Linked DNA regions of Homo sapiens: regions 2, 3, 4 and 5 are each reported to be linked to region 1. Evidence: microRNA targets listed by miRTarBase, many of them from high-throughput screens and not tested one by one. Region 1 holds a microRNA gene; each other region holds the end of a gene's coding sequence.

Region 1 (5,107 bases):
AAATGAGGTGTTGCACAATTCTACAATCGCAACTAAAAGCCAATTATGCTCTTTAAACTAAATTAGTTGTAATTTTGTCTTTTGACAAACCTTTATCAGCCAGGAATCTACATGACAAACTTCATTAATGAGCCTTTTTCTATCGCGTATTTGCCTTCCCATAATTTGCCACCCCTAGAGACTCAAAATCATTTTCCTTCTCTTAACACTTCTCTTTTTTTTTCTTTCTTTCTTTTTTTTTTTTTTTTTGAGACGAAGTTTCGCTCTTGTTGCCCAGGCTGGAGTGCAATGGCGCAGTCTCACGGCAACGTCCGCCTCTCGGGTTCAAGCAATTCTCCTGCCTCAGCCTCCTGAGTAGCTGGGATTATAGGGAAGCGCCACCACACCCAGCTAATTTTGTATTTTTAGTAGAGATGGGGTTTCTCCGTGTTGGTTAGGCTGGTCTCGAACTCCCGACCTCAGGTGATCCGCCCACCTCGGCCTCCCAAAGTGCTGGAATTACAGGCGTGAGTCACTGTGCCCGGTTCTCTTAACACTTCTCTAAACATATACTGTTCTTTTTTGAAGATGCTGTATAATCCTGAATTCAAAGCTACCTCTTGGAGATTTGCTCATTTCCCTGGTCTCTCTTTTGAATACGTGACGTACATGTTTTTAAATTTCTGTTTTTCTTTTTTTCTTTCTTTCTTTTATTTATTTTGAGATGGCTTCGCTCTGTCACCCAGGCTGAAGTGCAATGGCACTATCACGGCTCACTGCAACCTCTCGCTCCTGGGCTCAAGCGATCCACCCACCTCAGCCACCAGAGTAGAGTACCTGGGACCACAGGCATCCACTACCATGCCCAGCTAATTTTTACATTTTTTGTAGAGATGGTTTTTTGCCATATTGCCCAGGCTGGTCTGGAACTCCTGGGCTCCCAAAGTGTTGGGATTACAGGCATGAGCCACCATGCCTGGTCCTGTTTGTTTTCTTCTTGTTAATCTGTCTTTTGTTACAGGGGTCTATCACAACCAAAACCTCGGAAGGGTAGAGGAAAACTCTTTTTTTCTCCCCAACATACCATACAATAGAACATTATGCATGCATTAAAAGGAAGCCAGGCACGGTGGCTCACGCCTGTAATCCCAGCACTCTGGGAGACCAAGGCAGGCAGAATATCTGAGGTCAGGAGTTCAAGACCAGCCTGGCCAACGTGGCAAAACTCTGCCTCTACTAAGAATACAAAAATTAGCTGGGCGTGGTGATGCATGCCTGTAATCCCACCTACTTGGGAGGTTGAGGCAGGAGAATCACTTGAACTTGGGAGGCCAAGGTTGCAGTGAGCTGAGATTGCACCACTGCACTCCAACCTGACAGGCTGATCTCAAAAAAAAAAAAAATTACAAAAAAAGAATGTTGGAGCTTGGCGCAGTGGCTCACACCTGTAATCCCAGCACTTTGGGAGGCTGAAGCAGGCAGATCACCTGAGGTCAGGAATTTGAGACCAGGCTGGTCAACATGGTGAAACCCTGTCTCTACTACTAAAAATATAAAAATCAGCCAGGCGTGGTAGCGCACACCTGTAATCCCAGCTACTCAGGAACGCTGAGACAGGACAATTGCTTGAACCCAGGAGGCAGAGGCTGCAGTGAGCCAAGATTACGCCACTGCACTCCAACCTGGGCGACAGAGTGAGACTCCGTCTCAAAAAAAAAAAAAATGGGTCTATAACTAATGTCCTAGTATTATCAGTTGAGAAAAGCTTGTGGTTGCATGATGGGTATAAAATGATCTCATGCCTCTTTTCCTTTCTCTGCCATCGTGGTGTGTTCTTGACTCCACCCTCACCATGTCTTCTCACAAGACTTTCAGGATTAAGTGATTCCTGCCCAAGAAACAAAAGCAAAATCGTCCCATTCCCCAGTGGATTCGGATGAAAACTGGAAATAAAATCAGGTACAACTCCAAAAGGAGACATTGGAGAAGAACCAAGCTGGGTCTATAAGGAATTGTACATGAGATGGCACACATATTTATGCTGTCTGAAGGTCACGATCACGTTACCATATCAAGCTGAAAATGTCACCCCTATCTGGAGAGTTCGACGTGTTTTCCTCTCCGAATCTGTTATGAACGCATTGGTTGGCTGGGTTCAGTAATAAATATGTGAGGCCTTTCATTTAAAAAAAAAAAGTCTCATTTCTGTAATTACAATACTTCACCCAAACAAACAAACAAAAATAACTAGTACATGAACATGAAGAACAATATAGATGAGAAGAAAATAGGTTGGATACAAAATAAAGTTAAACTTGGAGAAAGAGGCTGGGCTCAGTGGCTCACACCTGTAATCCCAGCACTTTGGGAGGCTAGGGCAGGCGGACGATTTGAGCCCAGGGTTCGAGACCAGCCTGAGCAAAATGGCGAAACCCCGTTTCTACGAAAAAATACAAAAAAATTAGCCTGGCATGGTGGTGTGCACCTGTAGTCCCAGCTACTCAGGAGGCTGAGGCAGGAGGATCACCTGAGCCTGGGAGGTAGAGGCTGAGGTGAGCAGTGATTGTGGTACTGCATTCCAGTCTGGGCACAGAGTGAGACTCTGCCCCCCAACCTCCAAAAAAAAAAAAAAAAAAAAAAAAGGTACATGTACCAGGATACAACTGCAACATTATTTGTAATACAATAGGTTTTTGAAAAGTAGTAACCTGAATATCCATCAATGCCAGTTATGGTAATTTATTCAATTTACCATTCAATACATTGGGGAACTTTCATTTTATGGACGATTTTGCAACTATTAAAAAACTATTAGGCCAGGACTGGGCGCAGTGGCTCACACCTGTAATTCCAGCATTTTGGGAGGCCGAGGCTGGTGCATCACTTGAGCCCAGCAATTTGAGACCAATCTGGGCAACAAAGTGAGACCTCCGTCTCTACAAAGAATACAAAAATTAGCTGGGCGTGGGCCGGGCATGGTGGCTCATGCCTGTAATCCCAGCACTTTGGGAGGCCGAGGCAGGCGGATGACCTGAGGTCAGGAATTCGAGACCAGCCTGGCCAATATGGTGAAACCCCATCTCTACTAAAAATACAAAAATTGGCCGGGTGTGGTGGCAGGCGCTTGTAATCCCAGCAACTCAGGAGGCTGAGGCAGGAGAATTGCTTGAACCCGGGAGGTGGAGGTTGCAGTGAGCTGAGATCGAGCCATTGCACTCCAGCCTGGGCAACAAGAGTGAAACTCTATCTCAAAAAAAAAAAAAAATTAGCCAGGCATGGTGGCACGTGCCTGTAGTCCCAGCTACTCAGGAGGCTAAGGTAGCAGGAACACCTGAGCCTGGAGGCAGAGGCTGCAGTGAGCTGACATCATTGCCACTGCACTCCAGCCTGGGCAACAGAGCGAGACCCTGTCTCAAAAAAAAAAAAAAAAAAAAAAGCCCGGCGCAGTGGCTCACACCTGTAATCCCAGCATTTTGGGAGGCCAAGGTGGGCGGATCACTTGAGGTTAGGAGTTTGAGACCAGACAGTCCAACATGGTGACACCCCATCTCTACTAAAAAATGCAAAAATTAGCGGGGCATGCTGGCCCACGCCTGTAATCTCAGCTACTAGGCGGGCTGAGGCAGGAAAATCGCTTGAACCTGGGAGGCAGAGGTTGCAGTGAGCTGAGATCAGGCGGGTGGATCATTTGAAGTCAGGAGTTTGAGACCAGCCTGGCCATCATGGTGAAATCCTGTCTCTACTAAAAATAAAAAAAAATTAGGCCGGGCATGGTGGCTCACGCCTGTAATCCCAGCACTTTGGGAGGCCGAGGCAGGCAGATCATCTGAGGTCAGGAATTCAAGACCAGCCTGACCAACACGGAGAAACCCCATCTCTACTAAAAATATAAAATTAGCCGGGCATGGTGGCACATGCCTGTAATCCCACCTACTCGGGAGGCTGAGGCAGGAGAATCGCTTGAACCCGGGAGGTGGAGGTGGCAGTGAGCCGAGATCATGCCATTGCACTCCAGCCTGGGCAACAAGAGCGAAACTCTGTCTCAAAAAAAAAAACTAGCCAGGTGTGGTGGCTCACACCTGTAATCCCAACTACTCTGGAGGCTGAGGCACAAGAAACGCTTGAGCCCAGGAGACAGAGTTCACAGTGAGCCAAGACACTGTCACTCTGGGTGACACTCTGTAAAAAAAAAACAAAAAACAAAAAAAAAAACCCTAAAAATCCCAAGTGTATACATGTGCATCTGTATAGAGTAAAATGTGGAATATTACAGATGAATCTATTAATATTACTTACCTCAAAAGGAGGAAGAAGATACATTTTTAATATTTTCCTTATGTATCCATTTCATTTCATTTGTAACACTAAGCACGTTGTACTTTTGTAACTTAAAAACTACTTTAAAAAAAGTACTTGTGCAATATCCATATAATGGAGTTTTATTTGGGAATAAAAAGGAATGAAGTACCGATACACGTTACAACATAGATGACCCTGAAAAGCATAATGTTAAGTGAAATAAGTCAGTTACAAGAAACCATATATTACATGCTTCCATTTATATGAAATGTCTAGAATAGGCAAATCTATAGGGGCAGAAAGACTAGTGGCTGGGACATGGAATGGGATGAGGGACAGGGAGTGTCTGCTAATTGCTACGGGTTTCCTTTTTGAGGTGAAGAAAATGTTATAAAATTGATTGTGGTGATTGTTGCACACACACCTCTGTGAATAAACTAAAAACCATTAAACTGAAAAACACTTTATATGGATGTCCCAAAAAGGTGTTTTTAAAACACCATCCCCATTAACATTTGTTTTATTCACCATCAAAAGACTAGTACTTGATATCTTTGAAAATAATCTGAAGAATGTGTCAGAGACTCTAAAGACAATTCCAAAAATGAAAAATCCAGAATGTATACAGTCTGAAGAAACTACTTTAAAGAGGACATCACGTTTTTGTTTTTTTGGTGTTTTGTTTTGTTTTTGAGGAGTCTTGCTCTGTGGCCCAGGGGCTCACTGCAACCTCCGACTCCCGGGTTCAAGTGATTCTCCTCCTACCTCAGCCTCCCGAGTAGCCGGGATTACAGACATGTGCCGCCACATCTGGCTAATTTTTGTATTT
Region 2 (5,107 bases), not on the chromosome of region 1:
TTGGTAGCAATTGCATTGAATCTGTAGATTGCTTTGGGTAGTAAAGCTGATGGATTGAAACTGGGTTGGAAGAGAGTCAAGATTCTAAGCAACTATAGGGATGGATTTATCATTCTTAAGACAAGACTTGGGAAAAGTGGGGCAGGAAAGGGGGAAAGGTATGTTTTGTAGATGTAGATAAAAGAACTGGGAACAAATACTTGGAGGAAGCAAGGAGGCAGATTTTGCCATGTTGTAAGAAAGGCAGTTATGAAACAAATAGAGCCATCTCAAAATGGACAGGACATCCTTTTTGTCTATCACTAGAAGTAATCAACCTAGATTCATGTGTATCAGCTATGACAGAAGGAACTATGGGAATTGATTTATAAGGATTCCTCTAAAGATTTTACTCACGTTTTATCTTTCATTAATATTAAATACGAAAACATGGGTATAGTAGCTAGTATCAGGTATCAAATTACTTTCCATTATTTCTAAAAATTCTATTTTAAAAACTTCCGAGATTTAAATTCAAATCTGAAAATCTGTCCTACCCCCTTGAGTCAACATGAAAGTGACTCCAAGAACAGGGACTTTATTAGTCTCTTATGAGCTTTATTAGTGTTATTCCAATATTTAGGACATAGTAGGCACTCAATATGTGAATGACAGGTTATACGAACAAACTGAAGTTTATACTTACGTTTCAAGGTTTTTGATATTGCCAAATGGCCCCCTAAAAGTGATATACCAACTCATATTCTATTCACCAAAATATGACAGGATTTCCCCACAACTCTGCTAATAGCAAGATGTACATTATTTTTATTGTCAGTCAGCATTGTTTTTATTTGTATTTTTTGTAACCAATGGGGTTCAAGGTGTTTCATGTTTTGTTGGCCATTTGTATCTTTTTGTGAATCGAAATTTGGTATGTTTTGCCTATTTTTCAGTTGGTCTTTTCTTACCAATTGAAACAAATTCTTCATATACTTAAGACATTAAAAACACTGTCATATGTTGCAAATATTTTCCATTACCTTCTGCTGTACAAAAACTTAAACTATACAAAATTTCCTTTGTTTTTAGCTGTCATACTTTGCTAATCACAATTTCATTCACTCGATGTGTTACATTACTAATTATTTACATATAAGGAAATGTACTAAGTATTATGTGTGTGTGGGTACCAGATAAAAACCAGAATAACTGGACACATGGCTCTGAGGCAGTATGCAATAAGTGATTTAATAGTGGTAGTTTGCTCTAAGTGTTTTTATGAGAGAAAGGGTATCTTCTCCTTGAATGATTCAGATAGCCTTTAAAAAGTTAAAATCTGAATCAGGCCTTGAAGAAGAGTTAGGATTTGAAAGGGTGAAGGTGTAAGTAAACTGCACGAGCAGAAGTAGATAACAGAAAACACAAGGCATCTTCAAAGAATGGTGAATAATCCAGTTTGGGTTAAATAATGTAGGCAGAGTATTTATATAAATACGATTTGAACTGTATTCAAATAGTAGTATTTGCTGAACTGTTTTCTGAATAGTTTTCATTACGTGGCCTGTAGCTGGCTTCCTTAGTGCCAAAAGTTTACTCAGCATATTATAATCCTTGGAAAATGAAGCAGAAACTGCATGAAAAGAGATTTTTATTTTCACACTCCTTCAACACCTAAGGCTTTCTCACTTTGTGTTACAACTAAATTGGTTGACTAATGTCATGTAATCTGAGAAATACACTGTACTTCGTTCTAGTAGATATTTAAGGTCCCTTTAGGACTGAAACTTACAGAAATCAGATTCCAGGAATTATCCAATCTCATTTTGATTTCGGATAAACATTAATTTGCCTTATTCCTTAAATATGGTGAATTCATTATGAAGTCTTTGGCATACTTTTAAAGATGGAAGTACAATATTGCAATATTATACATATACTTTGTGTGCCATGGGTCATCTATGCACAGTAAGATGAAGCATGATATTAATGACATCTATTTAGTCACAAAGAAAATTTAAAATATCACCTGAATGTTCAGTTTTTCCCCCAAGTTTAATCAGACTTGAGAGTTTAAATTAAAAATAAATTGTGTTGTAGGTTCTAGTCACCCAATAACTTATCGGATCCAGGCTTAATTATTGTTTAATGTTGCAAATTTAGCGCAGAATAATTCTTTGAGTAAAGATCAAGAAATAATTAAATATGATTTGAAAAAGTACAAAGTCCAGGCCCGGCACGGTGGCTCACACCTATAATCCCAGCACTTTGGGAGGCCAAGGCGGGTGGATCACCTGAGGTCAGTCAGGAGTTTGAGACCAGCCTGGCCAAAATGGTAAAACCCTGTCTCCACTAAAAATAACAAAAAATTAGGCGGGTGTGGTGGCAGGTGCCTGTAATCCCAGCTACTCAGGAGGCTGAGGCAGGAGAATCACTTGAACCCGGGAGGTAGAGGTTGCAATGAGCCAAGATTGTGCCATTACAGTCCAGCCTGGGCAACAAGACCGAAACGCTGTCTCTTTAAAAAAAAAAAAAAAAAAAAAAAGTGCAAAGTCCTATGTATTCTTCAGAGTTGTTAGGAAAGAAAACAAATAAGGTTAGCTACATATTTAGCTAACCTTAGATTTAATAAACTATTAAGTTATTTAGGTCAAAAAGAATAACTAAATGGATGCTACAAATTTCAACCAGTATTTTCGATTTTTTGAGGTCTATCATCTGAACCCTCAGTGGCAAACAATACGAAAATTCAACATATTTTTATTTGTTAAATATATGAATATAATTAAATATATTCCTTCAGTAAACTGAACTGGACAAAACTAGAGAACAGACCTTTTCCATACTCATTTAACTTTAAAATGATATTACTTTGAATTCTACTACATACCATCTTAGATCCTGTTTTGAAATTCCATTCACATTACATTCGATTTACTAGAATGCCTTTTTTTTTCTTTTTTGAGATGGGGTCTCACTCTGTTGCTCAGCAGGAATGCAGTGGTACAATCACGACTCACTATACCCTTGAACTTCTGGGCTCAGGGGATCCTCTTGCCTCTGCAGCCTAATAATTTTTTTTTAATTTTTATTTTTTTGTAGAGTTGGGGATCTTGCCTTGCTAACCAGGCTGGTCTCAAACTTGTGGCTTCACGCAATCCCCACACCTCAGCCTTCCAAAGTGCTGGGATTACAGGTGTAAGCCACCATGCCTGATCTGGAATGCTTTCTAAAAATATGGCATTATAAACATAATACTAAAGAGAAAAAAAGGTTAAATTTCACTTCAAGAAATTATCAGTCTAATAGCATCAGTAAAAATGGCACTTTTAGTCATGGCATAAAATATACAATAAGGCTATTTTTCAATTATTGTTTTCAAGTTGGAAAATGCATTATGAAACACTCAAAAAGATGCTACTGGGTTTACTCATCAAGTGCTTTTGACACCATATAAATGACAGAGTAACACCACAGTTATGTGATTGGGACTCAAGAATCCTTAAATGTTAGGACTGAAAACAGGTATATGACTTATTTGTCCAGAATTTATATTTTTCTGTATCCCAATAAAATAATTAAGCCATGTGTATTGTGTAAAATTACAGTCTTTCAGTCTGTCCTATGTGCTTGCTCTCCTGGCTAGATATTAGCTAAAAATTAGCAAAAACAGCCATTTCCCCTATTATTCCCCAGCAAAGATGTGAAACCAAAACGCCTAACCTTTTCTGCCTGGTGGACTGCCCTCTACTGGACTATTTGAGGTATTCAGCCAGCAGGTCAATGTGACTAAAAAGGTAAACATAGAGATAAATGTAAACATTAAAAAAAAAGGAACCCTTTAGTATATTAACTTTTACCATGAAAACAATTTCAGTCATTTTGAGAACTGACAATGAAGATGTTTATACAGTCTTAGTCTCCTTTTCAACCTTGGAGGCAGATCTGCAGCAATAATAGTAACAAGTAGGAGCAATGGGTGTACTATCATGACCATCTTTTATGATGACTGGTGCATTAATACAAATCACATTTTTCTGAGTCCATTCATGCTATGGATGTTTTCTTATGCATAAACATAGAGTAGACACATACTAAATAGATCACATCTGTTAAGTCTCTTGCCACAAGCATCAAAACTTTTCAGAGCTGTCTCTTCCGTGAAAATCCATTTCATGTAGTAGCAAGTTGATTTTCTTTGTGGTTCATCCCCACGCCTGAGACTTGCAGTAATGTAAAACCAGTTTACCATCACTGCCAAAACACTACAAAAAAAAAAGGCAATAAATCAAACTCAATCTTTTATTATTCTTAGATGAAACTAAGAAGATAAATGCCACATGTATCATAAATATCCACACACGTATATTAAGTTACCTATGTTACAGGCTATCTCTTTCAAAGGATGCCTGTTTCTATCAGACACATATTAATAATCCTAAGTGTTTAATAAAATCTGTCCTTTAAGCATCTTAGGCATGAATGAGCTTATGTATTTTAATCTTGTCCTTTCTCTACATGTCCAACCACAATATATGTAATTTTAGCTGTTTTCTAGTAGTGGTGCTAGTATGTGTACTCTAATAACTATTACAATGACTCTGTAAGATGTTAAACAGTCATTCTTATGCTGTTTTCTCAATTTCTTGTAGGCAGATTTGGATAACAGATTATAAGAACAATGTAGAAGAAATCAAATGTAGATAAAGAAAAAGCCTTACTTTATGAGAATCATGAAGATGACTTTGAAATGTAATTTATTCCTTGGTTCTTCAATCATTGTATAATTTATTAATATCTTTCTATGATCAAGATGTTAGATAACAGAACAAGAAAGTCATCTTTTCTACCCCAGAAAATTAAGAATGGCATGCCATCTCTTGAAATAAAAATGTGAATTAACAATACTACACAATATACATATTATACAGATGTGCATACTCGATTAAGAAAAAAAAGCAGTAATTTCTTTCTTTTTTTTTTTTTTTTTTTTTTTTTTTTACCTCATAGAGAGTTCCAACTTCTTGGTCTGGGGAAGGAGCAAAGGACTGATTCACATAAATAAACTACAAGAAAGGAAGGAAAAACAGAGATGTTTAATGGTATCCTGATTAATCTGCATTTTTCT
Region 3 (5,107 bases), not on the chromosome of region 1:
ACCTCGTGATCCGCCCGCCTTGGCGTCCCAAAGTGCTGGGATTACAGGCATGAGCCACCGCGCCTGGCCTAATTTTTATATTTTTAGTAGAGACGGGGTTTCACCATTCTGGCCGGGCTGGTCTTAAACTCCTGACCTCGTGATCCGCCCATCTCAGCCTCCCAAAGTGCTGGGATTACAGGCGTGAGCCACCATGCCCGGCCTTGTTTTTTTTTTGTTGTTGTTTTTTGTTTTTGTTTTTTCTTTGAGATGGAGTTTCACTCTTCTTGCCCAGGCTGGAGTGCAATGGCACGATCTTGGCTCACTGCAACCTCTGCCTCCTGGGTTCAAGCGATTCTCTTGCCTCAGCCTCCCAAGTAGCTGGGATTACAGGCATGTACCACCACAGCCAGCTGATTTTGTACTGTTAGTACAGACAGGGTTTCACCATGTTGATCAGGCTGGTCTTGAACTCCTGACCTCAGGTGATCTACCCGCCTCGACCTCCCAAAGTGCTGGGATTACAGGCGTGAGCCACCACGGCCGTTGTTTTGTTTTTTGAGACAGAGTCTGGCTATTGTCGCCCAGGCTGGAGTGCAATGGTGCGATTTTGGCTCACTGCAACCTCCACCTCCTGGGTTCAAGTGATTCTCCTGCCTCAGCCTCCTGAGTAGCTGGGATTACAGGCGCCCATCACCACACCCAGCTAATTTTTGTATTTTTAGTAGAGACGCGTGTTTCGCCACATTGGCCAGGTTGATCTGGAACTCCTGACCTCAGGTAATCCACCTGCCTTGGCCTCTCAAAGTGTTGGGATTACAGCCGTGAGCCTCCGCACCCAGCCGAGATGGAGGTTTTTTTAATTTTTTTTGAGACGGAGTCTCACTCTGTCGCCCAGGATGGAGTGCAGTGGCACGATCTTGGTTCACTGAAAGCTCCGCCTCCCGGTTTCACGCCATTCTCCTGCCTCAGTCTCCTGAATAGCTGGGACTACAGGTGCCCGTCACCATGCCTGGCTAATTTTTTTTGTATTTTTAGTAGAGACGGGGTTTCACCGTTAGCCAGGATGGTCTTGATCTCCTGACCTCATGATCTGCCTGCCTCGGCCTCCCAAAGTGCTGGGATTACAGGCGTGAGCCACTGTAACTGGCCTGTTTTGTTTTTTTCATAGAGACAGTCTTGCCCAGGCTGGAGTGCAGTAGTGTGATCATTGCTCACTGTAGCCTTGACCTCCTGGCCTCAAGTGATCCTCCCACTTCAGCCTCCAGAGTAGCTGAGACTAAAGGTACACACCACCACACCCGGCCAATTTTTGCGTGCCTGTAGCTAGACTTCAGAATTGCTCATCTCAGCCTCCAGAGTAGCCGGGATAATAGGCATGCTCCACTAGGTCTTGTAGTGAATTTACTATTTTTTTATATTTACTACTATTTTTATTATGAAAGTACATGTATTACTGTTCAAGTTGCAAGCTACTATAAATCAGATCTGATATCTTGAATCCATTCTATTAAAACTTTTACCTAGAAAGAACTTGCAGAATATAAACAGTGACAAAGGAAACAATATATATATATATATATCTGGCCGGGCGCAGTGGCTCACACGTGTAATCTCAGTACTTCGGGAGGCCGAGGGGGGCGGATCACCTGAGGTCGGGAGGTGGAGACCAGCCTGACCAACATGGAGAAACTCGGTCTCTACTAAAAATACACAATTAGCCAGGCGTGGTGGTGCATGCCTGTAATCCCAGCTACTCAGGAGGCTGAGGCAGAAGAATCACTTGAACCCGGGAGGCGGAGGTTGCAGTGAGCCGAGATCACACCATTGCACTCCAGCCTGGGCACAAGAGCGAAACTCGGTCTCAAAATAAAAAAATGCTAAAAAAAAAAAAAAAAAAAAAAAAAAAAAAGATACAAAAATCAGCCTAGCGTGGTGGCGGGCACCTGTAGTCACAGGTACTCGGGAGGCTGAGGCAGGAGAATCGCTAGAACCCAGGAGGCAGAGGTTGCAGTGAGCTGAGATTGCACCACTGCACTCAAGCCTGGGCAACAAGAGCCCAGGAGTCTCTTGGAGCCCAGGAGTGAGATGGAGTCTCCCTGGCTCACTGCAACTTCCGCCACTGCAACCCCTGCCTCTTGGGTTCAAGCAATTCTCCTGCCTCAGCCTGCGGAGTAATTGGGACTACAGGCACGCGTCACCACGCCCAGCTAATTTTGTATTTTTAGTAGAGACGAGATTTCACCATGTTGGCCAGGCTGGTCTTGAACTCCTCACCTCAGGTGATCAGCCCATCTCGGCCTCCCAAAGTGCTGGGATTACAGGTGTGAGCCACCATGCCCAGCTGACAAAGGAAAACATTTAGTGAAGTGTAAATATAAAGTTTTTTAATCCAAGTCAAAAAAAATCTCCAAAGAATAAAATGTGAGGTGGGATGCAGTGGCTCACACTTGTAATTGCAGCCCTTTGAAGGCCACAGCAGGAGGATTCCAAGTCCAGCAGTTCAAAGTTACAGTGAGCTTCAGTGGTGTTACTGCACTCCAGCCTGTGTGACAGAGCAAGACTGCCTCAGAAAAGATAACATTCAAAAACAGCAGCGATTAGTGGTTAATATATAAGGATCATATATTGCCATAATATATAAAGACATAAATGGTGGGCCTAGGGGCTTGTCACACTAAAGCTGACTTGAAATTGACCATACTCAGGGATGTTATGGTGTAACTCTCTAAAACTAGAGATTTAATACATTTTTTTTCTTTCCCCCCAGAGTTTCACTGGTTGCCCAGGCTGGAGCACAATCGTGCGACCTCAGCTCACTGCAACCTCCATCTCCGGGGTTCAAGCAATTCTCCTGCCTCAGCCTCCCAAGTAGCTGGGATTACAGCATGCACCACCATGCCTGGCTAATTTTGTATAGTAGAGATGGGGTTTCAACATGTTGGACAGGCTGGTCTCACTCTCCTGACCTCAGATGATCCACCCACCTCAGCCTCCCAAAGTGCTGGGATTATAGGTGTGAGCCACCGTACCCAGGCGAGATTTAATACTTCTAAAACCAAGCCTGGTTCAGTCTAGACAGGGTACTGGTTCTCAGTCTTGGGTATACCTTGACATCTCCTGGGAGCTTCACAATTCTGATGTCTGAGTCCTATTCTGCAGTCTGACTTAATTGGTCTAGGGTATGGACCGGAAACATTTTCAAAAGCTCCAGGTTAGAACAACTCCTCTCTAGGTCTGGTACATTCCATAACTAGTCATGGAAGACACTAAGGGTAGTCCTTTTTGATACCAAGTGGAGCTTGTATTATACCCAACTTACAGGTAGAAACATTTATGGCTGAGTATTTGCAGATACAGATACATAAACACAAACCTTAATCTAAAAACCCTGTTTAGTCCACTTCCCTCCAAATTATTGTTCTAAACAAACACCCATTTTTCCAAAACGCTGGGTGTCACCTAAATAAACTCTTACACGTTTAGAAAGAAATGCTAACAACCTCCTACCTTAAGGCCAAGTCCCTTATTATCAGCGCTTTATGCCTGTTCAGTTGGCAAAAATTTACCACATTCTTCCATTCTCAAACTAGAGCTTGGAACATAAATTACACGATCATCCTGTTTGTCAAAACATTTTCATAGCAAAATACCTGTAGGTACCATCAACTTAATCATCTTCCACTATGACAGTAAACCTACATGGCAATTACTGTTGTTTTATAAATATTCAATTTACTCCAAATCTGTTAACTGCTAAAATGTACATACATAAACAAACTCACATCATTCCTCAAAATCCATGTGTGTGTCCAGGATCTAACTATATAGTCTATCTTAACTTCAATGCCTTTTTTTGGGGCGGGGGCGGGAACGGAATCTTGCTCCGTTGCCCAGGCTGGATGGAGTACAATGGTGCAATCTCGACTCGCTGCAAACTCCACCTCCCAGGTTCAAGCGATTCTCTCAGTAGCTGAGATTACAGGCGGTGCGCCACCACGCCCAGCTAATTTTTGTATTTTTAGAAAAGAGGAGGTTTCACCACGTTGGTCAGCCTGGTCTTGAACTCCTGACCTCATGATCTGCCTGCCTTGGCCTCCGAAAGTGTTGGGATTACAGGTGCCAGCTACCGCGCCCAGCCATTTGAATGCCTTCCTCACTCCAGGAGAAGCTACCATGTATAGCCAGTCATTGAGCAGTATCTACTATTATTTTTGGGACTCAAAACCCAAATAATACTTTTTGAGGCCAAAATTGTAAATACAGCAATTGGAAGATGCTGAAAGTCTGCAAACTCACAAAAAAGCAAGGATTGCTTTAAAAAAAAAATGCCCAGAGTTTCCATTTCAGAAAAGTGATGGTCAGGGTATGTCAAAAACACTGTAGAGGCCTGGGTGGGCAGATCACTTGAGATCAGGAGTTTGAGTCGTTTGGCAAACATGGTGAAACCCTGTCTCCACCAAAAATACAAAAACTAGCCAGGCATGACGGCAGGTGCCTGTAATCCCAGCTACTTAGGAGGCTGAGGCAGGAGAATCGCTTGAACCCTGGAAGTGAACAGGGAGACAAGCACTGCAAACAAATACTTTTTAATGGGTTTAGTTTTTTTTTTTATTTTTTACAAATATACTGGAGAATCATGCAATGCTGCCAGCATTGGATGCAATCCGGGGCCACAAGTCTGCACACTCCTTTGCTACTGGTCCTGTAATGGCAGAACCTGCATTAAAAAAATAAAATAAAATAAAATAAAAACATGTGGGGGACAGATTAAGACATCGTCAAACACAGAAGATCCTTGGCCTGTACTTCTAGACAATCCACCCAACCTCAGAGACCTAAGGAACAAGCTGGACTGATTTCCTACCTTTCATCTCGCCTTTATTGTTCACTATGACTCCTGCATTATCTTCAAAATAAAGAAACACGCCATCTTTTCTACGGTATGACTTTCGTTGTCGAATGACCACTGCTGGATGTACTGAGAGAAGAAAAAAGGACAGCAGTCATTAACCTGTCAAGTCGCAGTGCCACCACAAAAGCAGTTTCCAACTAGACAGAATGTACACTCAGCGTTTGAGACAGTGACAGTGTAAATATCAATCTTCAAGGTGATCCTCCCACCTCA
Region 4 (5,107 bases), not on the chromosome of region 1:
CACTGCAACCTCCACTTCCCAGGTTCAAGCGATTCTCCTGCCCCAGCCTCCCAAGTAGCTGGGACTACAGGTGCCCGCCACCATGCCCAGCTAATTTTATTATTTTTAGTAGAGACAGGGTTTCACCATATTGGCCTGGATGGTCTCGAACTCCTTACCTTGTGATCCGCCCGCCTCGGCCTCCCAAAGTGCCGGGATTACAGACATGAGCCACCACGCCTAGCCTTATTTATTTATTTTTGAGACAGAGTCTTGATGTATCACCCAGGCTGGAGTACAGTGGCAAGATCATGGCTCACTGCAACCTCCGCCTCCCAGGCTCAAGTGGTTCTCCTGCCTCAGCCTCCAAATAGCTGGGATTACAGGTGTGTGCTACTACGCCCAGCTAATTTTTATATTTTTAGTAGAGACGAGGTTTCACCATGTTAACTAGGCTGATCTCGAACTCCTGACCTCAGGTGATCTGTCCACCTCAGACTCCATAAGTGCTGAGATTACAGGCGTGAGCCACCACACCCGGCCACCCATAGCTTCTTAGTGGTCACTTGGCACAAACAAGGAAGCCTTGTCACTGCTTAGACAACTCAAGGCCACTTAAGGACAACCACCAAAATCAAAAAGAAAGGGTACCTCATGACTTTAGGGCTAGCTGTGTCCCATCAAAGTGGAAGGCCAGGTCCTGGCCTTAGCATAGGACCTTATCGGAGAGTAACGAGGGGAGAGGCTTCAGAGTGAAAAAACCAGCCAGGCATGGTGGCTCACACCTGTAATCCCAGCACTTTGGGAGGCCGAGGTGGGTGGATCACTTGAGGTCAGGAGTTCAAGACCAGCCTGGACAACATGGTGAAACCCTGTCTCTACTAAAAATACAAAAATTAGCCGAGCATGGGGGTGCACACCTACAATCCCAGCTACTTGGGAGGCTGAGGCACGAGAATCACTTGAACTCTGGAGGCAGAAGTTGCAGTGAGCCAAGATCACACCACTGCACTCCAGCCTGAGTAACAGAGCGAGACTCTGTCTTAAAAAAAAAAAAAAAACAACAACAAACAAAAGTGAGAAAACTGGGCCTGGTTCCAGCTCTGCCATGACTGGCTGATCAACCCCGGACAAACCACCACACCTGTCCCGGCCTCTGCTTCCTTATGCATCAACAGGAAGGTAATAATACCCATCACGCAGGGCAGTGGTGAGGCTCAGAAAGCATATTAGTAGACCACGTGGAAGAATTCTGCTTACCCCTGTTTTGAAGGAGCGATTAATCATGTATAGAAATTAGGTGTGAGTCTCAGGATGTTAGAGGCCAAGGTGGGTGATATTAAGATGTAATTCCATCATTGCTGCTGTGATAATCATCATCCTTGTATTCTTCCGATTTCCTCACCTCCTACTTTATTTAATGGTTTCAGCAAACCTGTGAGGAAGGTAAGGAAGGGCAAATAATAATGATGTCCATTTTAGAGAGGAAAGAAAGGCAAGAAGAGTTTAAATATACTGTCAAACGCTGCCTGGCTGGTTTGCATGACAGGGTTTTCTCTTCAACCTAGTTCAGGAGCTGAACGTCCCCATCTTCAGAATAGGTGCTAGTCAAGACCAGAGTCCTTCTATGGATGAACTGTAAGACAAAAAAAAAAAAAAAGAGAGAGAGAGAGACATGTATATTAGGAGACTAACAGACATTAAATAATGGGCATGAGGGTTCTTTCTGGGGGTGATGACAATATCCTAAAATTAGATTATGGTGATGGTTTTACAACTCTGTAAATATAGTAAAAAACATATATTTGTACACCTTAAGTGAATTTCATAGAATGTAAATTATATGTCAGTCAGGCACAGTGGCTCACGCCTGTAATCCCAGCACTTTGGGAGCCTGAGGTAGGCAGACTGCCTGAGCTCAGGAGTTTGAGACCAGCCTGGGCAACATGGCAAAACCCCATCTCTACTAAAAATGCAAAAATTAGCTGGGTGTGGTGGCTCACACCTGTAATCCCAGCTACTCAGGAGGCTGAGGATCACTTGAACCCGGGAGGCAGAGGTTGCAGTGAGCCAAGATTCATGCCACTTCACTTCAGCTTTGGTGACAATGTGAGAACCTGGCTCCAAAATAAAATAAATAAATAAATAAATAAATAATATTCCCAACAAAGCTGTTAAAGGACATACCATTTTTTTTAATGGGCAAGATGAAACTACTGTGGCTATGGATGCATATTTGAGTGATAAAACTCTAAAGAAATGCAAGGAAGTGTTTGGCGTGAATGTCAAGACTCCTTTCAGGCACAGGGAGGGTTTTGTGATTAGAATGGGGCACAGGAAGGCGCTTCTGGGGTGGGCAGCAGGTGCTATTTCTTGACCTGAATGATAGTTACAAGGGTATTTACCTTATAATAACTCATTAAGCACCACTTGTTTTGTGTAGTTTTCTGTATCTGTTTTCTTATATAATAAAATGGTTGTTAAAAATAGGGGAAATCAAGTATGAAATAACACCTGTGTCAGACATACTGTAGAGTGGCCCCCATTAGCCCCACTTCCTGGCATTCATGTCCTTCTGTAATCCCCTCCCCTTCAGTGTGGGTGGTAACGTGACTTGCTTCTAATCAATAGAAGGCAAAGGCAATGGGATGTACGTGATTACGTGTTTATGTGGTTATGCTATGTAAGATTTTGTGTCAGCCGGGTGCAGTGGCTCATGCCTGTAATCCCAGCACTTTGGGAGGCTGAGGCGGGAGAATCACGAAGTCAGGAGTTCGAGACCAGCTTGGCCAACATGGTGAAACCCCATCTCTACTAAAAATACAAAAAAAAAATTAGCCGGGCGTAGTGGCAGACATCTGTAATCCCAGCTACTCGGGAGGCTGAGGCAGGAGAATTGCTTGAAACTGGAAGGCGGCGGATGCAGTGAGCCCAGATCACACCACTGCACTCCAGCCTGGGCATCAAGAGTGAGACTCCGTCTCAAAAAAAAAAAAAAGATTTTGCGTCATCTGGCTAGGAGACCCTCTCCCTTATTGTCTTTGAGGAAACAAGCAGCTGTGTTGCAAAGGCCTATGGGGTAAGGAACTGAGGGCGGTCTCCAGCCAACAACCAGAAAGAAACTGAGGCCCTCAGTCCGGCAACTCAAGAACTGAAGGCTGCCAATGACCATGTAATTTGGAGGCAGATCCTTCCCCATTGGAGCCTCAGATGACCCTGTGTCCCCAGCTGACATGTTGATTGCAGCTTGTAAAACTCTGATGTAGGAGACTCAGCTAAGCTATGCTCTGACTCCTGACTCACAGAAACTGTGAAATAATATCTATGTGTTATTTTAAACCATTAAATTTGTGGCAATATTCTTACATAGCAACTGATAAGTAGCAAATTATGTTTAGAGATCCTCTGAGACTGCCCTCAGGTTCAGTGATTCACTAGAAGGACTCACAGAACTCAGCAAAGTGTTGCACTCATAGTTACAGTTTATTACAGTGAAAGGATACAGATTAAAATCAGCAATGAAGAAAGGCACATAAGGTAAGGTCCAAGAGAACTTCCAATTATCCTCTCCTGGCAGAGTCTTCAGGATAATGCTTAATTCTCCCAGCAATGATGTGTGGCTACAATGATGTGTGCACAGAGTATTACCAACCAGAGTAGCTCACCCATGCCTAGGTGTCCAGGGCTTTTACTAGGGATTGATCACATTGGCATGCTTCACTGCCCACATGGCTAACTTAGTCTCCTCAGCTTGACCTTGCAAGGTCAAGCTGATACTGCATGGCCCAAGGCCCACAGGTAAACAAAAACACTCTTATCAGGCAAGATATTCTAATGGCTTAGAGGTTATCTCCCAGGAGCCAGGCAGGGGCCTATTCTTTATTTGGAATGTCCAGGGTTCAAACATCCCAAGTTCATCCTGTATCACACAAAAGGATTAACTTCAAAAGTGGTATTCTTGGCCAGGTGTGGTGGCTCACACCTGTAATCCCAGCACCTTGGGAGGCTGAGGTGGGAGGACTGCTTGAGACCAGGAATTCGACACCAGCCTGGGCAACCTAGTGAGATCCCATCTCTATCGTAATTTTTCTAAAAAGTGGTATTCTTAAGTCAAGTTACTACCCTGATTGATGACAGGGAGAGAGACCAGGAAACCACTGTGTTGTAATCCCTTAGGAAACCTTACACCTTTACTTGCTTTATTATCAGGTAATTTCCAGGATGTAAGCCATACAGCCAGAAGGCAGGGTACAAAGGAGAGGAGGCAGAGATGGTACACTCATACAGAAGCTTCTCCTGATTGTCCACTGAATAGAAGGCAAGCTTTCCCTCCTCAAGGTTCAGCCAGATGCCCACCACCCCAGGTCTGTCTGAGCCAAGGACAGTTTCCTTGACCATGTGCCATGCAGAGAGCTGGCTAGTCCCCTTCCATTCCACACAACAAGAGTCCATAGTCCTTCCCAGGACCTGGTCGCGGCTCATCTCCCAGGAAGCCACCCCAACTGCCCAGTGGCTGCAATTCCTAGTGTCCACTTCCCAGTAATGCTTTCCAGAAGACAGGGCCTGGGAACATAAGACCTGGCTGGTAGAAAACCTCTCACAGCTCCAGCGATAGGGTTGTGGGCGGTGAGACACAGTCACTGTACGGGAATCCTTGGACACCTCCAGGCTGCAGGAAAGGCTCTTCAAGTTAAAGGTTGGATGGATGGCCCCTTTGGAAAAAAAAAAAGAACAATAAGAACATGGCCGGTCATCTTTTGATGGTCCATGCTAAGAAGTCTTCAAATAGCAACTTTGTATCTTTTGGTGTGATGTTTCACTCACACTAGCATTAAAATTGCTACATCACCCAACAGGAAGAAATGATAAATGTTTCAGATGATAGATATGCTAACTACCTTGATCGGATCACTATGCACCATATGTATTGAAACATCACTATGTATCCCATAAATATGTACACTTATTATATTTATTTATTTTTAAAATTTATTTAGAAAAGAAGCAGGATTTTGCCATGCTTCCTAGGCTGGTGTCGAACTCCTGAGCTCCAGCAATCCTGCCATCTCAGCCTCCCAAAGTGCTGCAATTACAGGCATGAGCCACTGCACCCAGACTATACAATTAT
Region 5 (5,107 bases), not on the chromosome of region 1:
TCAAAAAACTGTGGAAAGGAGGCTGGGCTCGGTGGCTCACACTTGTAATCCCAGCACTTTGGGAGGCTGAGGCAGGTGGATCACCTGAGATCAGGAGTTCAAGACCTGCCTGGTCAACATGGCGAAACCCTATCTCCACTAAAAATACAAAAAATAAGCCGGGCGTGGTGGCGGGTGCCTGTCATCCCAGCTACTCAGGAGGCTGGGGCAAGAGAATCACTTGAACCCAGGAGGTAGAGGTTGCAGTGAGCCGAGATCGTGCCACTGCACTCCAGCCTGGGCTACAGAGTGGGACTCATTTAAAAAAAAAAATGTGGAAAGGTATGTGATATCCAATAGCCATTGCAGATTGAAAGATAAATATTTTTCTCTATTGCAGTCAGTTTAAGACTTACTGCCTCCATTCACTAATTTAAAAATATTTGAGGCTGAGCATGGTGGCTCACACCTGTAATCCCAGCACTTTGGGAGGCCGAGGAGGGCGGATCACGAGGTCAGGAGTTCGAGACCAGCCTGGACAACATGGTGAAACCCCGTCTCTACTAAAAATACAAAAAAATTAGCTGGTTGTGGTGGCGGGCACCTGTAATAGCAGCCACTTGGGAGGCTGAGGCAGGAGAATCGCTTGAACTCGGGAAGCGGAGGTTGCAGTGAGCCGAGATTGCACCACTGCCCTCCAGCCTGGGTGACAGCGTGAGACTCTGTCTCAAAAAAAAAAAAAAAAAAATTGAGAGCATATCATATTGCAGGCCTTGTTTCAGACTATGTAGAAGATGCAAAAACAAACTAAAATTGGTTTGTTCTCAAAAGGCTTGCAATTTCTAAAGATGGAAAACACATACACAGGTAGCTATAGTCAAAAGGAATATGTGAAAGTGTCAACGAACTGGTTTATAGTACTTTGTTCTACATTGCTATAGTGTTGCTGGAAAAGAGACTCCAAGAGCCAGTCCTTGGGTCTAGCACAGGGAAGAACTGGAGAGGAGTCACAGAGCACAGTGAAGGAAGAAAGTTTATTAGAACTACTCTGTTAGAGAGTAGTAAGTCCTCAGAAAGCAGGAGGAACACACTGTCCTTGGGTAGTGTCTCTACTTAGAAGAAACTGTAAGGAGCTATGATTAAACTTGGAATGTGCATATATGCTCACTAAAGGTCAAGGCTATTGGTGCTATAATGACCATTAATCCTTCAAACTAAGCCTACTCATTAATGTTATCTTTGAGTGAAGTGGGCTGCACTCAGGACATCTGGACATTCTGCAGGCTTAGTGGGAGATGTTCTGCATGACCATAATTTTTTTTTTTTTTTTTTTTTTTGAGACAGAGTCTCACTGTTGCTCAGGCTGGAATGCAGTGGCACCATCTTGGCTCACTGCAACTACCACCTCCCAGGTTCAAGCGATTTTCATGCCTCAGCCTCCTGAGTAGCTGGGATTACAGGCATGCGCCACCACACCCAGCTTTTTAAACTATTAATATTTTAGTAGAGACAGGGTTTTGCCATGTGAGCCAGGCTGGTCTCAAGCTCCTGGCCTCAAGCGATCCACATGCCTCAGCCTCACAAAGGGCTAGGATTACAGGTGTGAATATTTTGTAATTATAATACTTGTGGCTATTTTCAGACCTTAAGTATTAATATTATAACTGCCTTGTGAGAGCCTAGCTACTCACTTTAAGATGGGGTCACTCTAGTCATGTTTTCTTTTTTGTAGGGGGGTGGGGAGAGAGTCTTGCTCTGTCGCCCAGGCTGGAGTGTAGTGGTGCGATCTCGGCTCACTGCCACTTCAGCCTCCTGAGTTCAAGTGATTCTTGTGCCTCAGCCTCCTGAGCAGCTAGGATCACAGGTGTGTTCCACCACGCCTGAATGATTTTTTTGTATTTTAGTAGAGATGTGGATTTGCCATGTTGTCCAGGCTGGTCTTCAACTCCTGACCTCAAGTAATCCGCCTGTCTCAGCCTCCCAAAGTGCTGGGATTACAGGCGTCAGCTATTGTGCCCAGCCTCTAGTCATGTTTTATTAAACCAGAGGCCTGGTAAGCAGGGGTTCCTCTAACAATAGCACTTCTCACATTGCTATGAAATTATTTGTCCACTTGGCTATCTCCTTGATTAAATTGTGAACTGAGGGCAAAGATCATATCTTATTCATCTTTGTAACCTAGGAACCTAGACTAGTGGGCAGCCTATAGGAGGAGGGGCTTAATAACTGAAACAAACAAATGGATGAATACATGAAGAAAATGGCTAAACAATTTAGAGGGCAAAGATCATGTCTGGCTGGGTGATGAGGCAAGATGAAGTAATTTAACTTGAACCTTAAACGATTTAATGGTAAGAGTCTGACAAAGGGTATGTGTACAGAAGGTAGGAAATAGGGAAAAGAAATACAGAGTTGGAAGAGAGCTTAAAAGTCCAGTTTTAATATAATCTCCTGTTAAATGTAGGAATTTCATTTAAAATGGTGCTGATGAGTCATTAAATACCTCATAAAATACCCTATTCAGTTTCTTAGTCTGGTTTGGACAATCTGACCTAGTTTTGATTCTTCCATAAATGAATTCATTTCAAAATATTTATTGAAGATCATTTCATAAAATCACTTTGATTTAGGAAGTTTATTTTTTTCTATGACAGGTACTTTTTCCAGCATTTTCTGCTTATATAATTTAACAAGATTAAATACCTAAGTTTTGATATTGACCACACCTGTTAAACTACATATACGATTTTTAAAAAATTGTAGTAAATACACATAACATAAAATTTATCCTAATTCGTTATAAGTGTACAGTTCAGTGGCATTAAATACCTTCACATTGATGTGCTACCATCACTACCATCTATCTACAGAACTGTTTTTACACTTGAGATTTTTAATTTTTTTGAGATTTTTATTTATTTACATTTTTAGAGATAGGTGCTCACATCTATGTTGCCCAGGCCTGACTCAAACTCAGGCTTAAAAGGTCTCCCATCTCAGCCTCCTGAGTGGTTGGCACTACAGGTGAATGCCACTGTGCCTGGCTTACACTAACATTTTTAAACTTAAAAATATGAAATATTACTGTTCACAGAGAAATCAGATACATTTTTAATAATGCCATTTACATTCTAAATATGTTGACAAAATTCAGACCAGAACTTACAATTGGTGTATTAACTAAACTTTTGGGCTTGGTATTCAATAATGATTGTTTAAACCACTGGCCTCATAAGTCAAAAATCTAAGATCAGTGTAAAAATCGTATGCATTTTTATCTTAAAGAGAAATAATTCGAAGTACTAAAAGTTCAATTTTACAAACCTAGAAAAGAGATTTCTGACAGCATAGAAAACCAGACATTCTCCCTTCACTGGCTAACTCCTATGGGAAGAAAAATAGGTGGTAAGAACACACTTTAGGCTGGCGCAGTGGCTCATGCCTGTAATCCCAGCACTTTGGGAGGCCGAGGCGGGCGGATCACCTGAGGTCGGGAGTTCGAGACCAGCCTGACCAACATGGAGAAACCCTGTCTCTACTAAAAATACAAAATTAGCTGGGCATGGTGGCACATGCCTGTAATCCCAGCTACTTGGGAGGCTGAGGGAGGAGACTCGCTAGAACCTGGGAAGTGGAGGTTGCAGTGAGCCAAGATCGTGCCATTGCACTCCAGCCTGGGCAACAACAGCGAAACTCCATCAAAAAAAAAAAAAAGTATACTTTAGCTTACTCCATCCTCATCACAGTAGTGCTTATACTCTTCCTGTGGGAGCCACCCTTCCCAGTAGCAATGGTTTCAGTTCAGGTGGTGGTTCTATATAAAAGGGCAATGTAAGAAGTAGCAGTATTTTCCCAATATCCTGCCAGAACTCGGCTAATTGAAAAGCAGCACAAGGCTAGAATCAGAACCCAGGGTTTCAGGATCCAAGCCCAGTTTTATTTCTAAGAGAAATATTTCTCTACAATTACAATCTTCTATAACCCTATAAAACAGCTTCTTCAGTTCAGATTCTTCATCAGAACATTTCTATTTTTCAAATGCTGCCCCCTGCAGTTGATTCGATTTTGTAATGGATGGTTTTGAAGCTATTTCTGGAGCAAGTGTCGGAGCTTAGGAAACAGTTTTAATGCATTCTGTGTCGTCACTTCTATAACTTCTTCCACTGAGATCCCTTTCACCTGGGCAATATATTCTGCTGAAATAGAAATGTTCCAGGGCTCATTCCGTACCTGAAACAAGACAGCAGACACCATGTCAAACATGACACTGAAGGGAAGCAGATCCTTGGAGACTATAGATAGAAGAAAATGAGTTGGTAAAAACAACTGATGGGCTCCTTTTTAATTTTTTTCTTTTTAGGTGGGGATGAGGGCTGGGAGGGAGGTGTGGCTGCAATGTTGATTGTAAATCTGTGCTGCTCCTGAAAAGAACCCTGGGGTATTTACAATTGAAGTCCCTAGCTCCTAGCACATGAAGCAGTCTGCAAACAGTGAACACCTGGTAACCTGCCTGACTAATGGATTAATTGTCCTTTGGTTTGTTGCTTAGGTGAATGCTTGTAAAAGGTCACTGCTCTGCTGCTTGGCCGCCTACCTCACAGGCTACATGACAGTTTGATTCAAGAATTGCCAACATGTATTGGAAAGATGAAATAGATTATGTACTGGCATTTCACTGATTCTAAGATGCATTTCCTCTCCTATTTTAACATCTCTGAAATTGATACAGTATATTTCATTTAGATTCAGTGGTATTTCATAGTATAACTGGCAGTGTTTTTTCTTTCTTAATGGTCATAAAACAATGGTAAACAATGGTGCCTCTACAATCAGTAGCATTTAGATTTTATGAAATAAATTATTATTGTTACTATCAATAAGTATCTACTCAGGATGATAATGTTCAGAAGAATAACATTATTGTTAAAATTTTTAAAATGCACTTTGGTAATGTAGCCCAAAAAAATTAAAAATGGGCATAGAGATTTATGTTAATCATGTTGTTTATAATACAATCTAGATGACCAATAGCAAGTTAAATATGGTAAACTCACATACTGGAATATTATGCAGTTATTAAACATGATGAAGAAAAGTATGTTTATTAATATATACAGAGGTTCAGCCA

What was found. Region 1 holds the annotated microRNA hsa-miR-1285-3p (UCUGGGCAACAAAGUGAGACCU, at 2,888-2,909, shown strand). A microRNA usually pairs through its seed, bases 2 to 8, with sites in the 3' UTR of a target mRNA and lowers its output. Matches are read on the target gene's strand: a 7mer-m8 pairs with bases 2 to 8, a 7mer-A1 pairs with bases 2 to 7 and ends in A, and an 8mer does both.
Region 2: the mRNA of ATG12 is a reported target of hsa-miR-1285-3p. Seed matches in the 3' UTR shown: 7mer-A1 at 3,014-3,020 and 7mer-m8 at 2,471-2,477.
Region 3: the mRNA of RPL23 is a reported target of hsa-miR-1285-3p. The part of its 3' UTR that is shown has no 7-base or 8-base seed match.
Region 4: miRTarBase lists RNF135 as a target of hsa-miR-1285-3p. Seed matches in the 3' UTR shown: 7mer-m8 at 4,029-4,035.
Region 5: the mRNA of TATDN3 is a reported target of hsa-miR-1285-3p. Seed matches in the 3' UTR shown: 7mer-m8 at 3,654-3,660 and 7mer-m8 at 3,536-3,542.

The regions. Positions count from the first base shown.
Region 1 is chr2:70,250,735-70,255,841 of GRCh38, reverse strand. MIR1285-2 (microRNA 1285-2) reads left to right here and starts at 2,837; the gene lies at 2,837-2,924. It also overlaps the pseudogene RPL39P15.
Region 2 is chr5:115,827,620-115,832,726 of GRCh38, forward strand. It overlaps ATG12 (autophagy related 12), which reads right to left. Exons shown (of 4, transcript NM_004707.4): 3 at 4,983-5,045; 4 at 581-4,244. The coding sequence ends at 4,185. LOC124901049 (a long non-coding RNA gene) reads left to right here. Exons shown (of 2, transcript XR_007058908.1): 2 at 4,632-5,107. Among named protein-coding and RNA genes, the nearest start is that of ATG12, 11 kb to the right of the region's middle.
Region 3 is chr17:38,845,516-38,850,622 of GRCh38, forward strand. It overlaps RPL23 (ribosomal protein L23), which reads right to left. Exons shown (of 5, transcript NM_000978.4): 4 at 4,847-4,960; 5 at 2,345-4,699. The coding sequence ends at 4,617. It overlaps LOC124903994 (a long non-coding RNA gene), which reads left to right. Exons shown (of 3, transcript XR_007065743.1): 3 at 2,750-2,775. Among named protein-coding and RNA genes, the nearest start is that of SNORA21B, 3.6 kb to the right of the region's middle.
Region 4 is chr17:30,998,246-31,003,352 of GRCh38, reverse strand. RNF135 (ring finger protein 135) reads right to left here. Exons shown (of 5, transcript NM_032322.4): 5 at 3,442-4,691. The coding sequence ends at 4,162. Among named protein-coding and RNA genes, the nearest start is that of RNF135, 30 kb to the right of the region's middle.
Region 5 is chr1:212,814,115-212,819,221 of GRCh38, reverse strand. It overlaps TATDN3 (TatD DNase domain containing 3), which reads right to left. Exons shown (of 10, transcript NM_001042552.3): 10 at 2,392-4,209. The coding sequence ends at 4,066. Among named protein-coding and RNA genes, the nearest start is that of TATDN3, 25 kb to the right of the region's middle.